Linked DNA regions of Homo sapiens: region 1 is linked to region 2. A link means that fine-mapping ties the variant in region 2 to the expression of a gene that starts in the linked region. Tissue or cell type: whole blood. Region 2 holds a variant in brackets; the other region holds the start of a gene. All regions are shown on one strand. Distances are from middle to middle.

Region 1 (2,669 bases), 23 kb after region 2:
TGAAATACTGAGACCTAAAACTTACAATCGAGATGGATAGGGAATTACTTTTTCCTTTACTTCCTTTACTAAATCCCTTTGTCTCCAAATCTATCAAGCAATAGTTTCTTTATCTGCAAACTGTGGATTATGTTACCTGTCTTGTCTGCTTTAGAAGGGAAACAAAAATTATGTAGAAATTAATAGGAATACTATTGAAACAGGAAAGGGACAACTTGCAAGGTTTGAAGCAATCACATGTTGAGTACTCAGTCAAGGCTTTCTTTTTTTTTTTAAATCAAAATGTTGATTGGGATATTTTATGGGTAGCAGGCTTGGATCCCAGCACTTTTCCAATAGGGGAACAGAAGCACCTTGTACCGCCCCAGAGTTTCCCTTCCCCCACACAATAACCCTAAAGCAAAAGCTATTATTATTATCATCGCCATGTGACAGAGGAAAACTTGAGATTGGGGGCTTAACTGACATTACATCAAGTCTCAAAAAGAAACAGTGGCAGTTTGAGACTTTGATCTACGACTCTTTTAAGAGTTTAGATTGCGTCCACAGCGAAACCTGCACAAACAGTTGTCAACAGCGGCTGCAAATTACAGGCTTATGAGGAACGTTTGAAAAATGCCAAGAGTTCTTTCCTCAGGCCAAATACTATGGTAGATAAAAGTATAGCCTTTGGAGCCAGAATCCCTGAGTTTGAATCTTGCCTGTGCCACTTGGTAGCTGTGTGACTCTGGCTGCGTACTTAACGGCTCTGTCTCAGTTTTTCTGTTGGTAAAATGAGGATAATAACACCTTCTTTGTAGGGTTGTTCTAAGGATTAAATGAGTTAATAGGAGTGAGCCACTTAGAATAGGGCCTGTTATATGGTAATCTCTATTTAAAATCCTGTCAGATACACCAAAGAAAACACTTTAAAAATATCTGTTAAATAAATCAGTAAAACAGAATCGGGGCATTGGTTCTTTAAAAGTACTCCCCCACGGTATTCTAGTATGCAGCTTGGGTTTTAATATCTGAATGTGGCGCCTTTTGGGATCTCGCCTCGCGAGAAATTGACATTAACGAATGAGTGAAAGGAGCTTCCCCCCCCCCCCCCCTCCAGGAAGATATAGACCCTGCAAACTTGTTAGCAGGACCTTGCGGACACCAAGGAGGCGGAGGCGTTTTCCCCATTTCCCCTTCGGGAGTTGTAGTTTCCTGCAAGCGCTTGGTGGGTCTGTAAACCAGCGGGGAACTACAACTCCCACAATCTCGCGCGCCTCCCGCCCTGCCTCCCGCCCGCGTTTCTAGCCCGACTCCCATTACCGCCCCTCGGGGGCGGCTGTGGCGGAGGAACGATGGCCGACGGCGGCGGCCCTAAGGACGCGCCAAGCCTGCGGAGCTCTCCCGGGCCGGCGCCGCGGGTCCCGCGCGCGGTCGGGCCGAGTGGCGGTGGCGGGGAGACCCCGCGGACCGCGGCGCTGGCGCTGCGCTTCGACAAGCCCATTAAGCAGGCCTTCTACAACACCGGGGCCGTGCTGTTCGTGTGCCTGTGCTGCGGCGCCGCGGTGCTGGTCTACTTCATCCTGGAGGCCTTCCTGCGGCCGCTGCTCTGGGCCGTGCTATGCGGCACTTTTCTGCACCCCTTCAAGAGCTCGCTGACGCGCCTGGGCCGCCACTGGCTGCAGCGCCTGCACCGCGCGCACACGCCCATCGTCCTGGCCGCGCTGCTCCTGCCGCTCTGCTTCGTCGACTACGGCGTCGAGGCCCTGGGCGAGCAGGCGCTGCGCCGCCGCCGCCTGCTCCTGCTGCTCGGCGCCGGCGGCCCGCTCCTGTACGGCCTCTACTGCCTCGGCAGCTACTTGGGCGTGCAGGTGCTGCTGGTGCACGCTGCCACGCTCATCTGCCGCGGGCTGGACTACTTCAGCAGCCTGTGGGTGAGTGAGCGGCAGTCCGCCCCCGTCCCCCGCCCGTGGTCCCGGCGCTCTGGGGTGCAATCCTGCAGCTGTTCCTCCCGGTGCAGGGGCGACGAGGGGCCACACCTGTGCTGCAGTGACCGTCCGTCTCCGCTTTCCTTCTCACACCTCAGGAATTTGGCGGACATTCTTCCAAAAAGGGGGCGGGCGTGATTTGAAACAGCCTCCCTGCTTTTCGCCTTGTTTCAATCCTAATAGGCCCTCTTAGGGGGACAGTGCCCTGGATTGAGAATCGTTATTTCGCTTTGCAGAGAGAGGCCTCAGAGCATGGCAGTGGGGCTTGGTTTTACTTCTGGTTGGAGAGGGCGGGGGTGCTTCGGCCACCCTCAGTTCTGCGCATCTGAATGTCAGAGCTGGAAGGGACCTTAGAGATTCTAGGCCAACTTGCCATCCTGCAGATAGGAAAGGTGACCTCTTACCAGGCTAGGGCTACTTAGGGACAAAGAGGGGTTTGGGTGTCTTAGATTTCTTACAAGTCCTAAAACAAAGCTTGCTTCACTGGCTGGTGCTGCCTCTCAGTTCAGGTGATTCCTGTATAATTTGTGCAAGGCACTGGGTGCTGAGCTGCCTGTGCTTCTTCCTCTCCACGCTTTACTTTTAGGTAACTGCTTTTGTTGTGCAGGGACTGGTGTACCACAGCACACCTCCTCCCGCCTGGAGTAAAGCAGCTGACCGCGTGAAGGGGAGAGACGTAGATTTGTGATGCTTGGATTAACC
Region 2 (2,500 bases):
TAATTTTTTTTGAGAACCTAATGTATAGGAAAAACAAAATGGAACCCCTTTTTAAAAGCGTTTAACTTTTTAAAAATGGTACATTATTAGCCGGGCGCAGTGGCTCACAATCCCAGAACTTTGGGAGGCCGAGGCAGGCGGATCCCCTGAGGTCAGGAGTTTGAGACCAGCCTGGCCAACATAGTGAAGCCCTGTCTCTACTAAAAATACAAAAATTAGCTGGGCATGGTGGCGGGTGCCTGTAGTCCCAGCCACTCGGGAGGCTGAGGCAGGAGAATTGCTTGAACCCGAGAGGCGGAGGTTGCAGTGAGCCGAGATCGCGCCACTGCACTCCAGCCTGAGCAACAGTGAGACTCTGTCGGGGAAAAAAAAAAAAAAAAGGTGCATTATTGTGTGCGTGTGTGTGTGTTTTAATTAGACTTTACGTTTTACAGCAGTTTTAGGTTCACAGTGAAATGGAGCCGAAGGTACAGATTTCCCATATACCCCCTGGGGAGCCTCCCCCATTATCAACATCCTGCACAGGATGGTACATGCATTACAACTGATTAACACTTTTTTTTGTAACTTTTTATTTTTTTGTGATGGAGTCTTACTGTATTGCCCAGGCTTGGAGTTCAGTGGCACTATTTCGGCTCACTGCAGCCTCCACCTCTCAGGTTCAAGCGACTCTCCTGCCTCAGCCTCCCAAGTAGCTGGGATTACAGGCACCTGCCACCACACCTAGCTAATTTTTGTATTTTAAGTAGAGACGAGGTTTCACCATGTTGGCCAGGCTGGTCTTGAACTCCTGACCTCAAGTGGTCTGCCTCAGCTTTCCACAGTGCTGGGATTATAGGCGTGAGCCATCACACCCGACCAAACTCTTTTAACTTTTTTAAACTTGTTTTGAAAAAAATGTAAACTGTAGGCAAGCAGGAAGGATAGTAAAGGTTTAAGTGACCCTCCCACCTCAGGCTCCCAAGTAGCTGGGACTACAGCTACTTAGATTAACAAAATAATAACTTTTTTATTGTGGTAAAACGCACATAACAAAATTAACCATTTTATTTTTTGTTGTTGTGTATTTTTTTTTTTATTTTTATTTTTTGAGACAGGGTCTCACCCTATTGCCCAAGCTGCAGTGCAGTGGCACAAACAAGACTCACTGCAGCCTCAACCTCCCCAGCGATCCTCCTACCTCAGCCTCCTGAGTAGCTAGGACTACAGGCATGAGCCCCATGCCCAGCTAATTTTTTAATTTTTTGTAGAGATAGTGTCTCACTGTATTGCCTAGACTGGTCTTGAACTTCTGGGCTCAAATGATCCTCCTGTCTTGACTTCCCACATTGTTGGGATGACAGGCACTAGTCACCACACCTGGCCAGAATTGACCATTTTATTTTATTTTTTTGAGAAAGGGTCTCACTCTGTCATCC[G/A]GGCTGGAGTGCAGTAGCACCAAAATTTATGATTTTAAAGTGTCAATGCAGTGGTATCAACCACATTCAGTGTTCTGCAACCATCACTACTCCCTAGTTCCAGAACTTTTTCATAAATAATGACATTAGCCACACATGCTTTATTCTCTGTACTGCTTGCTGCTACTGCTACTGCTACTGCTACTACTACTGATTATTATTTTTTTGATTGTTATTTTCTGGAATTTTGGCATTTAAATAGCAAATATCATAATCCTTTAACCCTAAATACTTAAGTAGGTTATCTCCTAAAATCAAGAATGTTCTCTTTTATTATATAGTTTATTAAATTCAGGAAGTTTAACATTGATATGATGGTATTATTAAATATATTGTTTGTTTTCATATGTTGCTACTTGTCCCAATACTGTCCTTAGGGAAATTTTGGGTTTATAGCCCAAATTTCTATGTAGGAACACCTAGAACTGCATTTTGTTGTCATGTATATTTTGAAATAGTTTCTTAGCCTTTTTTTTTTTTTTCTTTTTTTGGTCTTTTATGACACTGACTCCTTGAAGATTATAGGCTAGGTATTTTTTTAATTTTTTTTGTAGAATGACCTTCAGTTTGAGTTTGTCTGATTGTTTTTTCTTGATTAGGTTGGTTTGTGTTTTGGGCAGGATTACCACATAGGTGGTAATGTCTTCTCCAAACATCAGTCAGGAGGCACTGAATGTCACTTATTGTGATGGTAACTTTGGTCTCCTGGTTGAGACTTTTTAATGGCACTTAAAAGAATTTTTTTGGTGGGATTTCAAATTGCAGAGATGATGGAATGTATATTTCTAGTGACCAGTGTGCAAAAGATGAACCTTTGACTTTTTTTTTTCTCAATCATTTCTCATGTTAGGGTGGTGATGATGTCATGGCCTGCGTCCATGATGACAATGGCAGGGTCCGCATACAGCACTTCTATAATGTAGGCCAGTGGGCAAAGGAGATTCAGAGAAACCCTGCCAGAGATGAAGAAGGAGTTTTTGAGAACAATCGCGTCACCTGCAGATTTAAACGCCCTGTGAATGTTCCCAGAGATGAAACAATTG

Evidence for each region. PIP is the estimated chance that this variant, and not a neighbour inherited with it, causes the effect.
Region 1: it holds the start of TMEM245, and the variant in region 2 is fine-mapped to the expression of TMEM245 in whole blood (INTERVAL, PIP above 0.99).

Annotation. Positions count from the first base shown.
Region 1 is chr9:109,118,579-109,121,247 of GRCh38, reverse strand. TMEM245 (transmembrane protein 245) reads left to right here and starts at 1,301. Exons shown (of 18, transcript NM_032012.4): 1 at 1,301-1,913. The coding sequence starts at 1,335. RefSeq lists silencers at 1,152-1,201, 1,342-1,511, 1,862-1,971 and an enhancer at 1,622-1,671.
Region 2 is chr9:109,141,397-109,143,896 of GRCh38, reverse strand. FRRS1L (ferric chelate reductase 1 like) reads left to right here. Exons shown (of 5, transcript NM_014334.4): 4 at 2,308-2,500. Among named protein-coding and RNA genes, the nearest start is that of TMEM245, 23 kb to the right of the region's middle. The variant G/A (reference allele first, on the strand shown) is at 1,419.